Linked DNA regions of Homo sapiens: regions 2 and 3 are each reported to be linked to region 1. The links are microRNA targets in miRTarBase. Many come from high-throughput screens and were not tested one by one. Region 1 holds a microRNA gene; each other region holds the end of a gene's coding sequence.

Region 1 (4,000 bases):
CCCAGAGGCGGAGGTTGCAGTGAGCCATGATCACGCCACTGCACTCCAGCCTGGGCAACAAAAGCGAAACTCCATCTCAAAAAAATAAAAAAAAATAAAAAAGAATAGAAACCAAAATGGAGACCATTTCCACAGGCACACGTAAGACTCGAGGGAACCCTACCAGCCTCCAACCAGATCCACTTGGTCTGGAGGCAAAAGCACAAGTACACGAGTGTCTGCGACTGAGAATCCTGCAGTCCCCAGACAGCCGAGGCCCCGGCCCTCCCCACTGGGCCCCTCATCCCCAGGCCTTGGGAACATGCTAATAAGGTGAGGAGGCGCCACAAAACCTCGTGGGGCCAGAAGGAGTTAATTTAAGTTCATCTTCCTTCAAAATGAGGTCACTAGCTTGGCACATGGTGGCTGTCTATAGACTCATTCAGCAGCCCGCTCCATTCTTCTACCTGATGGGGGGCAGAAGTGCCCCACCAGTGGCCCCCTGGCTGGACGTGAAATCGTAAAGCAATTAATCAAACCTGCTAAAAGGCCTGGCTGACAAGAGCAGGCTGGCTGAGCTATCTGTCAATGTTGCTGTGTTTATCATGGAAATCCAGCAGGGGCCAGGGAGGCTCTGTGTCTGTCCAGGCCAGAGGCCAAGGAAAGATGGGCCTGGCTGCGTGGGGCTCCTCTCTCCCTTGCCCAGGCGCCCATCTCAAGGAAAAGAGATGTCTCACATGGGCCCTGAGGGGTAGGGGGTGTGTGTGTGTGTGTGTGTGTGCGCGTGCGTGCGTGCGTGCGTGTGTTTAGTGCGGTGTGTGTGTGACATAGAAAGACCCTCCCATATCCGAGACACTAATTAGGCTTCTTTAGGCTGCTATTCAAGCATGGGACACAGACCAGTTACTGCTTCGTTCTCATCACTGTTTTCTAGGAATCACTCAGGATGACTTTGTGGAGGACCAACTACGAGGGGCTGCTCTGTGAGCACCAAGGGCTCACTATGAGAACCTGTCATGGTGAGGCAACAATGCTCAGTCAGGGTTTAGAGACACAAGCAAATGAAAACTTCGCCGACAAAATAGTTTGCAAAAGGCCAAGAAATCTAGATCTAGCTAATCGTCAACCTACAGGCATCAACTAGCTGCAGTCTCACAGCGGTCAGGCTGACGGCCTGGGTAGTGTGGGACTTCTGGCAGCATCTGGTGCAGCCTGCAATATCCCCAAACACTCACCAGCCCGCACACCTGCCGGCAAATGAACACGAACCCATACCAACTCTGAGTGGTTCAGTCTAAAAGACAACACGGTTTCTTGCATTTTGCAAGAGCATAAGCCCACAGTGTCTGTGAGCAGGGACGAGGGCAGCTCCTGGGAGGTGAGTGTCGGGGGGCTCCCACCTGCCCAGCTCTGGAGGTCTCTGCTGGTGAAGCATCCCCAAGTCCTGCCTATCCAATACGAGCGCCCCTCAAGCAGCTAAGGGGTATTTGGTGATCAAAGAAATTTGAGAAACTCTGGAGAGACGACTGTTTTCTCCACATGCTGTCAAATACCTAATGAAGGCAAATACGAAACCCAGTGACAACGGGAGTCCCCCGCTGGCAGCGAGGCCTGGCTCAGAGCCCCACGGAAGCCGAGCCCTGCTGCTACACTGGGAAGGCCCCACAGCCTCGGCCCTGGTCTCAGTAGCCTTTCTGGGTCCCAGGGCTAGCCAAGATGAACTGCTGCCAATGGCTGAGAAATGTGGCTGCTCTCTCCTGGTTCTCAGTGAAGGACAGGAAGGAGCTACAGTAGCCATGAATGAGGGTTTCTTCCTAATGTTCTCCAAAATGCCCAGAAAAAACTAACACATCAATGTTTATTTCCCTCCACAGAGAGTCCGTGACTCACGGTAAATATGCAGAAAGGATAAAAACCATTTTCACATGTTACGCGGATCAAGACCAAATACTCAAACCTGGTAAGGGAAACAAGTGACACACTGTCGAGAAGGAATTTTCACTGAGGATACTGTCTCAACCGTCCCTCTAAGTTCCTTGGAGGTGAGTTAATTACCAATCAGTCGATTGACAAATGCCCCCCATCTTGCGCAAGGTATCTTTTCACCAAGCTAAGCTGCCCTCAACAGGCAGGGAGTTTTACTGCTGTCTCTTCATACTCACCAGAAATAATACACTTTGCTCCTCACAACAGGCCCGTCAGCAGCCTCAGAGAACCATGCCAAGCAGGGTTTCGGCAGAAGGTGGCTACTGCCTCCAGACCGGGCAGCCCCAGCCTGCAGCAGCAAAGGGACCTCACCAAAGGTTCTGGAGGTCCCGTGACCTGCCTTCCCTCAAGCCAAACAGCTGAGGGGGGATGTGAAACCCCAGCTGCCTCTTACCTTTGCCTATGACGAGGCCACACTTATCGGCTGGCACCGTGTATGTTATCTCCTGGACGCCACCAGGGGCTCCCACGCTCCAGTCGCCACGGCCACGACCTCTTCCTCTGGCTGCTGCCAGGCCTCCAAAGCCGTCTCTTTCCTGGAAAGATCACAGGGCTGTAGCGACCTCTGCCACTGCCACAGCACCACTGCTCCTCTCTTTTCCAGGGAGGAGGTTAAGTGACAGGATGTAATCAATGCCACCCATCAGAACCTAGCACCTTTCCACACTTCCCATTCTGAAGGGCTCTTTCAAGCCAGAATTAACACCGATCACAGGTGTATCTGGGGAGGACCTGTGCAGACGAACACACGTGGTTACATAAACAGCTCAAATGTATCCAACAGAAATAGGCAGACACAAACTCCAAGGCTGAAGCCCAGCGGCCTTTCTCCCTGGAGCTTTCCTCACTGGGCCCCGATCTACAGGCATCAAGAACTGCTTTCTCCCTTGCAGCTGAGGCCCCTCTTTCCTGCGGCGGACACATACTGGGCCTATGGGAAGTCAGATATGCACAGCCTGCTGACCCTCCCCAACCAGGCACTGCTATGAGTCACAACACCTGGCACTCCAGTCAGCAAGAAGGATAAACGGATTTTACTCAGTTTTAGAAAACTTCTTGGCTGTTGTGCCCCCAAGCAGCAGCAGCAGTAACAGGTTCAAGAGTGACCATTCAGGGATACTTCAGAAGGGAGGAACAGAGGGAACCTGCCAAGGCCTCCTCCCCATGTGGGGCTGGAGAAGTCTCTGAGGCATTCTCCCACTGTTCACCCAGCAGAGAGAAAAACCTAAATCTAACAGCGGACAGAGGAAGAGCCCTTTCATTGAGACAGCAGCAAGTCTCATTCCAGCCGCTGTCCGCGGAGTCATTTTGGAGCTGCAGTATTTAAACTCTCTTAAATGTGGAGGGTGAACCTGGTCAAGCTAAGAGCTATTTCATGGAAGGGAGAAGCTGCACAGACTTTTCAACACATGAAGAAATGTTGGGCAAAACCTGCTCATGTTGATTAAGAGTAAAGTGAACGTTTACCCAGAATCTAAACCAGCAGAAAGCTGAGACAATTGGAGTGCTTTTCCCCCGCACTCTGCTCTTATGAGACAACTGCCAAGTAAACAAGGCAATTTTAGAATGGATGTTCACACACGCACAGGAGCGCACAGTCAACTTTCTGGGTATGCCACAGATCTCGAAGAAAAGGTTTTCTCCCAAACATCTCGCAGCCTCTGCAGTGCAAGGTTCATAAACTTTTTTTGAGACAGAGTTTTGCTCTTGTTGCCCAGGCGGGAATGCAATGGCAGGATCCTGGCTCACTGCAACCTCCGCTTCCTGGGTTTAAGCAATTCTCCTGCCTCAGCCTCCTGAGTAGCTGAAACTATAGGCATGCGCCACCACGCCCGGCTAATTTTGTATTTTTAGTAGGGACGGGTCTCACCATGTTGGTCTTGAACTCCTGACCTCAGGTGATCCACCTGCCTTGGCATCCCAAAGTGCTAGGATTACAGGCGTGAGCCACCACGTCCAGCTAATTTTGTATTTTCAGCAGAGACAGGGTTTCACCATGTTGGTCAGGCTGGTCTCGAACTCCTGACCTCAGGTG
Region 2 (4,345 bases), not on the chromosome of region 1:
GAGGTTTTAGTTATTAACTACAATTATAGTTGTATTATACAGTAACACATTGTTTTAAAATATATTATAAACCTTTTCTTTTTCCTCTTTAATTTATATGAAATATAAAATTAAGAATTTTGTAACACGATTCATATTGGAAACATTTAAAATGTTGTGAGCTACTCTCATACAGAAAATGCTGTGGAATCACATAAAACATTCTAATGATTGAAAGTGCCAGGCACAATGCTTGGCACATGTTAGATACTTCATAAATGTTCGTTCACACATTCTCTCATTTACTCATGCACTCATTCAAAAAACTCCAGGCTTAAGGAGAAACTGCATTATAAATGAGAATGGCAAACACAATCTTTTATCAACAAATTTGGAGTTTTGACAAAGACTTTGGCAATGGAGAGTGGAGAAGATGAGAGGATGATGATTAATATTTCAAACTGCTTGGTTAAAATCTAGCAAGTATAGCCCTGAGTTGCTCTATATGACATCATAGAGGATCAGGGTCAATACTCCATAAAAAGAATGCATTTCCCTTCGATACCCAGGTTTTATTTTACATATAAACACCTGCTTAAAGTCAGGAATACGCTGATGTTAGAGAGATACAAAATGTGCAACCCACAAGAAAGTAAGAACCACCTGACTGGGGACTTATTTTTCTGAGTTGAGACTTCTTTTTGGTTAGGGCCCCATTCCCTTGGTTTTAACAACTTAATACTGGTTGAATAATAATAATAATAATAATCTGGTTTAACATAAAAAGTGTGATTCTAAAATGAAGAGAAATAAATGTAGAAGGAAGAACAGTGTTCAAAATTCCTATTTTTTTCGATTATGCACCAACTGATGTATCTATTCTGCACATTTGTGCCAAAGGCACAAGGTAAGGTGTCAGCTCTTTGAAGAGGCACCTGAAAAGGACCATTTCTGGGCTTTTTGCAGAAGATCTTATAAATGCAATGAATATTTAACCTGAGTATTAAGGTCTACAAAATGCAAAGAGCTGTAAAAGACAGAAGAAAGTAAAGAATATTCTTGGAAGCTAAGCATTATATGGGATAAGAATTGATCTTGAAGGAAATAATTTAAAAATCTATAACAAAAATAAAACATGACACTGGCAAGTCATTTGTAGCTGACTTTAATTGCCTTTGGTATTCAGGAGAATAAAAAAATGGAAGTACTTTTATAAGCTCTAGTCTTTCCATCACATAGAAGGTAAGGAGTGGTGAAGAAGACCCTTCCATTGTCCCTGTCAAATTCTTTGTTTGTACCAGAACTGGCTCTGCTTGTATACTTCCCTGCCTTCTCTTAAGCTTCAGTCATCTGGGTAATACAAATAGAGCACTTGGAAGTAGGGGTTCTGTCTCCTCATCCCTTGAGAAGTTCCTGCAGAACCAAGAAGGTCCCTTTACTCTGCATTCTTCTAAATAAGGTAAAAGAGAATTCAGAGAGTTCATTGCCATCTGCACTGCTGCTCTGCATCTTTGCCAACTCAAGTTTTTCACTTTTTCTCAGTGATTCATAAGTGGGCTTGTGCTACTTTTACGAGGAAGGCTAACATTTTTTAGAACCAAATACTTTCCCTTTTCCCTTCTACAGTTACAGTAATATATATACCTTTCTCATTTAGAAATTTAAATGTTCAAGTAGTAAAAGATATTACAATGTCAAAACATGTGCTATAATTTAACTCTCTTAAGGACTATTGTAACTGGCCCTGCATCCTTATTTTCTACTGAAATTTTTTTGCAGTGAAAAATTTTATACTGAAAAAATTTGCAGTGGTTATCATTTACGGATCAGTAGAACTGTCAAAATTAACGATTCGTGGTATAAGATGATCAACCTTAGAAAATACTATATTAGTTAATTAAGTCTTTCCCCAACTTAAAACCTAAGTTTAAAAGAAAAGCTTATCAAACAAGAAAATAAGCCTTCAGAATTCCAAGGTGGGCTTCTTGTACAAACTTTGTTTCAGGAAATCTTCAAATTCAGAGTAAATGTTATACTAATTATACTGTTTCTAAGTTTTATTAATGTCAATGGAAGATGCCTATATTAAATGAAAAGAGCAAAAGTATCTTGCACTGTCACATAAATTTAAGGACAGAAAATTTATAAGCACTAGATATTTATCTTACAGTTCCTGATAAAATTTAAGTTCTTTTTGTCAAAATATAAAGAACTAGTAGTTTATTTAAAAAGAAATATCAATGCAAAACCTACTGATAGTAAGATAAAGTTCCTTAGATGTATCCCAATTTTAGTGTAATATGATTAATTACAACACTCTTTTATCACTGAAAATTATTTTGAAACTATTCTGATTCTTTGGAATTCTATAAATATTCTTGGAGAAAATTAAAAAAACATAAAATATCTGTGAACAACTCACTCATCTGATGAGATTATAAATAAAAGATCCCCTGTCCCTATTCCAGATAGAATATTTTAGAAAGTTTCACTGTTTGTTCTGCTTTAGTAAGTTATAAAAGTAATTTATTTAGCTTATCAAGGCAAATTTAGAGCTGCCTTATAGTGATTTTTGCCAAGCCACATAAATAAAGTTGTAAGTTGAGTGACTCTACTAACTTTATTATGAAATTAAAGTGAATAAAATTTACTTGGTAGATGTGTTGGTCTGGAAAAATAATGTAGCAACAAAACCAAGGATTGCTCTTAGGTTTCAAGGCAACAAACTGCGGCATTTTCCCCACTTTCTGTCATGCTACCAACACTAGACTGAACTACATGCACAAAATCCCAAACCCAGGCTCATAAGTGGTGATTATGATAAATAGCAGTTTCGATGATTCCATAAGAAGAAAAAGACTTGAGTATTCTTTGTGAGATCATGCCCCCAGAGAAAATTAAACTTAACCAAGAAATTTCAATGAAATAGACTGGGATTTGAAATGGTTGCCAGTCTGGTCATCCAATGGGGAACTTGAAAATTCAGATAGGGATAGGTACTCCTGTTTCTTTTTTGAGTCTTCTTGTTACTGATATAATTATACTATTCTTTTGTTCTTGTTTATTTTAGTTCATTCCATTATTAAAATGGAGAAAAAGTGATAAGCAATATGTAAATATTTGATTTGAATGCTGCTCCACTGTAGGAGGAAACAAATACATAATTGGTTCCAAAGGCCATCTTGAACTCCTGCAAGGTGCTCTATATTCTTGACTTGCTTTCAGGAAGTCTAGCCTCCAGACTTCAGGACTCTAAAAACAATACAGTAGTAACAGGTATCATTTCTCATGTGACCACCTCATTAACGATCAAAGCACATCCAGGTCTCTGTCCTACACATATCAGAACATGTTTTGGTCAGGTATAAAATGGAATAATTTCAAAGTTGATGTATCTACAAGTTGAACAGTCTTAGGGGGAATAGTTTCACCCTGTCATGTTGACATAGAGGTCCAGGTTTTCAAAAGCCGCCCCTTCAAACTAATTTCTGTAGTGGTCCATGTAAACAAAACACAGGTGAGAATGGTCCTTCTGGAACTGCTTTCATCGAACAGCAGGATTACCTGAAAGTGTGGTGTTGGCTAAATGTAACACAGGCAGAGGGTGAGCCTCTGTATTAAACACCCAGTGGTCTAAAGGTAAAAGGTCATCACCGGAGAACAGCAGATACAAATATCTGAAAATAAAAAGGGGAGAAATGAGCTTCAGTTAGAATTCAACAAGAACATGAAGTGAGCTCACTTTTAATGGCACAGAAAACCAATAACGTATTTTGAGCAGCTTTGATGAAAAACATCAAAGAAATAAACCTCAGACACCCAAATGATCTAAACACAAAGACAAGAGGTTTCAGAATAGTGTATAAGAAATCCAGTAAGATGAACAACTAGACCTACTGAAATAAAACAGTTTAAAAAAAAATCCGGCCAGGTGTGGTGAAGAGAGCAGACACCTTTGTCTTGTTCCTAATCTTAAGAGCAACACATTCAGTTTTTCAATATGATGTTAGCTGTAGGTTTTTCATATATGCCCTTATCAGGGTAAGAAGTTTCCTTCTATTCCCAGTTTGCTGAGAGTTTTTATCAGAAATGGGTGTTGGATTTTGCCAAATAATTTTTCTGTCTACTGAGGTGGTCTATTTTAGTTCATTGATTTTCAAACATTAAATCAACCCTCCACACCTGGGATAAACCCATTTAGTCATAACATATTATCTATGTAATTTGTTGTTAGAGTTGATTTGTCAAAATCTTGTTTAGTTCTATCTATGTTCAGGAGGAATATTGGTTCTGATGAGGACTCTGCTGTCATTCATTTTTTTCCATAAGTTACTGGGGTACAGGTGGTATTTGGTTACATGAGTAA
Region 3 (4,345 bases), not on the chromosome of region 1:
TCCCTGCCTCCTGAGACTAGAGCTGGAGCCTGTGGGAGCAGAGCCTGGAGACCAGGCCACTGCCAAGTCCTCAGGGCAGCCCCTCTGACTTGGCTCCCAGGCCTGCCACCTGCCCCTGCAGCCCTCCAAGGAGGGGTCGTGTCCCTCAGGGGTCCTGCCCGCATCGTGGGCCCAGCCTGCCAAGGTCTGGCTCGCTGCCCCTTTGACAAGCCCGGACTCGTCTAAACCGTAGCAGTGGATTCGGCTTAGGCTCCCGCTGGGCCCTGCTGTGCCCAGAAGGCACCTGACCTGCAGCAAATGCTGAGAAACGGCCCCACGGCGGCCCTGTGCCCTCCACAGCCACTCCCCGAGGAAGCGGCTTTGTGACCTGCATTGCTGTGTGTGTTTGTGTGCACATGTGTTTGTGCGGCATATGTTTGTTTCTGTGTGCTTGTGTTTGTGTGTTCAAGTGTGCATGTGTGCGTGTGTGTTTGTGTACGCATTTGTGTGCGTGTGCACGTGTGTTCGTGCATGTGTGTGTGTACGTGTGTAAGCCCACGCCTGCTGCCTTCCAGCAGCTCCGGAATGCTCCTGGCCGTCAGGTGGTGGTCCTCAGGGTCCCCTTCCCCTCTCCAGGCCACGGAGCATCACAACCAACCCCGTTCTCACACTACACCCAATCTGTCACCAAGTTCAGGGGACCCTACTCAAGCAAAGATCGGCTGGAACTTGCAGCCCAGCCGTTGTCCACCCTAGGCCTTCCTATGCCACAGCTGGGGCCCTGAGCACAGTCCTACTTTCGAAGCCACTTGCAAGTAAATGTGGGGGATTGGCAGCTTGCCGGGAGAACCTCCCCGGCACAAATGATCTTCCAACCTCAGCCTCCTGAGCAGCTGGGACCACTGGCGTGTGCCACAATGCCTAGCTAATTTTTTAGTTTTTTCTTTTTTAGAGATGGGGTCTCACTATGTTGCCTAGGCTGGTCTTGGACTCCTGGCCTCAAGCAATCTTCCTGCCTTGGCCTCCCAAAGTGCTGAGATGACAGCCGTGAGCCACCACGCCTAGCCATTTTCTTTTTTAAGCCCAAATCAGTCTCACCTTGGCTAGTATTAGCTAATAGTTTTTCCCACACTTGGCGGTAGAGTGAGGCTATGTGATTCATCTTCACACTGTGGTCAGGACCAACTGCTTTGAGGATGGAGCTCACCTTCCACCACGACCCAGAAGCCCTTGCAGGCTGTGACCCTGTCCAGCTCTGGGCTCCTGCCTCGGGGGCTTGGCACTCTAGTCCAGGCAGAGTGTGTGCTGCCTGCAGGGCACCCCCTGCTGTGTGGGCTAAGCACGCAGCCTGCAGGATGCCTTCCTCTGCACTGACCACCCATATCACACTCATCCCACTAGCTTGTCCTCCACCCACACTGCATCCCTGAGCTGGGACACGCAGAGGACAGGTGTGATGAAGGTGCATGAAATGAGAGGCAGACAGAGAGGAAAGGAGGCACAGGAAGGATGGGAGCGAGGCAGGAAGAGTGGACAGATTCACGGGGGCTGTGTTGGACCCACTGAACACAGAGCCAATGCCCCAAGACCCGCTCACAGATGAATGGGCGGAAGCCCCATCTTTCCATCTCTGCCAGGCCGTGGCGCTGGCTGCCCCTCCTCCCAGCCAGCGAGGGGACTTGCCCGAAGCCTTGACTCCCGGCCCCTGCCCAGTTCCCTTGCACCATGCCTGCCCAGCTCAGCAGACATTGCCGGGCCGTAGAGCACATGGCCCAGAATAGTGCTGTGATGCTGATGGTGACTTTCTATCACTGGGCCACCACACTGTGTGGCACCTCCTATCCCAGAAAGGAGAAACCTGGGGATGCCAGTGCGCCAGTGCCAGTCCAGCCATAAAGACGCAGTTATGTGTGAGGAGCCAACACGCAGTGCCAGGCTGCCATTCACGCGGGCCCTGCCCACTCTATTTCCGTTGGGAGCCTGGGCTGCCCAGGGAAGCCCCAGGTCCCGCCACCTGCTCTGAGGCTCTTCGTGCAGGGCCGAAGGAAAGTCACAGGCGGTAGCGTTGCTCTGGGGACTGTCCCCCTCCAAGCTGTCCTTTCCAGGACGACCTGTGTCCCCAGCATGCAGGCTTTCCCGGCCCTGACCTGGATCCTCTCTCTGGATGCTGCGTGTGTGGGAATGCCTTGCAGCCCAGGCTCGGCTCTGCCTACACACAGTGTCACCTGCCAGGGGGCTGGCAGGGGAGCCAAGGCCAGGCCAGTGCAAGTGGGTGCACACAGCACCCTGCCCTGGCTCCATTGGGCCCCTTCCCTCCTGTGTCACCCCCTGGGTTTTGGCGGTGCCTCGTTGTGAACCCTAGACTCCATGGAGCTGGGCAGGCCGGGCCCCGCTTAGATTTCCAGGCTCTAGCCTGGCGCCCTGCAGTCGGCGTGCTCTTGGCAAACGCTCCACGCTGAGAGGGCAGGTGCCATTCAGGCCTGGTTGGATTCTGGAGCCGCGTCTCAGGACAGCTGGGGCCATGGAAGTGTCTAGAAGGGAGGGGAAACCTCCCTAGTCCGGGCTAGCCCAGACCTGAGGGTGACGGGGCCCCTCTTCTGAGGGTGACGGGGCCCCTCTTCTGAGGGCAAGGAGCCCAAGGGCCAGGAGGGGCACGGAGAGGCCAGGCCGCCACAGGAGCAGCGCACGGAGCCACGTTGCACGGTGTTTCTTTAATGGAAAGACAGCCACCGACCTCAGAAGCAGCCCCTCCTTGCGCTGGACCAGAAGGATAAGGGGAGACCTAGCCACCAGTGGGCCAGTGGGGGTGAGGGGCTTCTAGGAAAACCGGTGTCTGGGACTCTGGCGGTTGATGGTGTCATCTGCGCGGGATGCTGGGCCTCCACCTCCCAACCTCCTCCGGGACAGTACAGGTTTGGGGGCAAGGCCTGAGCAGGGCAGGCTGGGGAGACTGCTGTCCCTGGGGTTTTGTGGGCAGGGGCTGGGTGCAGGCCGGACAGACAGAAAGCAGTCCCAGCTCAAGGCAGAAGGCCAGAGGGTGTGGAGTGAAAGGGACAGGCGAAGCCAGGTTCGGAGAGATGGAGGGAACAGGCCACCAAGCTCAGAAGCGAGAAAGGTCTGAGGAAGCACAAGACACACACACACACACACACACACACACACACACACACACACACAGAAAGAGAGAGAGAGAGAGAGAGAGAGAGAGAGGAAGGACGGGGAAAGAGAGAACAGAAGGGAGGACTGGTCGAAGGGCCAGTGGAGCAGGGGTCTGGGAGGGACAGGCCATGAACTTGCAAGGGGGCTGAGGGGAGCCGCAGAGTCGGGGAGGGTTGAAAGGCTGGAAATGCATGAGGAGGAGGAACAGAACATGTGTGTCTGGACAGGTGCGGCAGCCCTGGCAGAGCCCACTGTCCCCATTCTTATGGACCGCCTCCTGGCTGCTGACCCAGGGACTGTTCTCCTAGGACTGGAGCCTTGGACACTTGGGTTTGGGAGTGAACGAGAAAAAAGCTTCATGGGGTGCCTCTGGGTGGCTGTGGTGGGAGAGCAGGGGCAGCTCTGAGGCCAAGGGAACATGTGATGGGGGCCGGGCCTTGCGCCCACCTGCACCCTTGGGAGCCAGGGAGAGGCGGTGATGGGGCATCGAGCTGGGGTCAGGGACCCGAGGTGGGGGGCTGGGTTGGACGCAGCTGGGCCCTGGCTTAGCTTCCTGGCTCTGCCTCCCCATCAGGATGTCTGGCTGTGTTCCCCAGAGACCCCCACTGAGGCCCCGCGGTGGCTGCAGCTGCCTCTACTTTTTGTAGTTGCCAAACTGGATGGCCAGGCGGTCAGTGACGCAGCGGAAAGTGGCCGGCTGCACCTCCCAGTAGGGCACGGGGTTGTTGAAGAGGCTGATGCCGTTGTAGTAGGCCCGCTTCACCCCGAAGCCCATGGGACAGAAGTCGTTGACACCCACTTTGGTGATGTTGTTGGAGTGCAGATAGACCACCTGAAGGCAGAGAGGCCGGGTCACGGCAGGCCTCCCTCCCTCCACGCCAAGCCCGCTGCCTCCAGGAGGCATTTTGCTGTTGCCTCTGCACCCTACTTCAAGGGCCACACCAGAGGCTCCCCGTTGTTGGGAGGAGCAAACCAAGGCATGGGCGTGTTATTTGTGTGGGTGTCAGCCAGGATTAAGGCACTGGATGTGACCAGGGACAAGGATGAGGGTCTCAGGTGGGTCAGGTTGAGGACATGTGGGGGCGGGGCTGGGGTAGAGGTGTGTTTGGTGGTGTGAGGTGGAGGAAAGGTGGCCTGAGCCTCGGGGGAGCACCCTCACACTCCATGGGGCATGAGAGGAGAAAGAGCCCTTGGGATGCCCTCCTCT

The links. Region 1 holds the annotated microRNA hsa-miR-6856-5p (AAGAGAGGAGCAGUGGUGCUGUGG, at 2,540-2,563, opposite strand). A microRNA usually pairs through its seed, bases 2 to 8, with sites in the 3' UTR of a target mRNA and lowers its output. Matches are read on the target gene's strand: a 7mer-m8 pairs with bases 2 to 8, a 7mer-A1 pairs with bases 2 to 7 and ends in A, and an 8mer does both.
Region 2: the mRNA of MAN1A2 is a reported target of hsa-miR-6856-5p. Seed matches in the 3' UTR shown: 7mer-A1 at 599-605.
Region 3: miRTarBase lists BGN as a target of hsa-miR-6856-5p. Seed matches in the 3' UTR shown: 7mer-m8 at 3,184-3,190.

What each region holds. Positions count from the first base shown.
Region 1 is chr9:130,624,865-130,628,864 of GRCh38, reverse strand. It overlaps MIR6856 (microRNA 6856), which reads right to left and starts at 2,568; the gene lies at 2,502-2,568. FUBP3 (far upstream element binding protein 3) reads right to left here. Exons shown (of 19, transcript NM_003934.2): 12 at 2,360-2,501.
Region 2 is chr1:117,522,136-117,526,480 of GRCh38, reverse strand. It overlaps MAN1A2 (mannosidase alpha class 1A member 2), which reads right to left. Exons shown (of 13, transcript NM_006699.5): 13 at 1-3,656. The coding sequence ends at 3,524. Among named protein-coding and RNA genes, the nearest start is that of TENT5C-DT, 81 kb to the left of the region's middle.
Region 3 is chrX:153,507,873-153,512,217 of GRCh38, reverse strand. BGN (biglycan) reads right to left here. Exons shown (of 8, transcript NM_001711.6): 8 at 2,672-3,970. The coding sequence ends at 3,773. Among named protein-coding and RNA genes, the nearest start is that of ATP2B3, 7.6 kb to the left of the region's middle.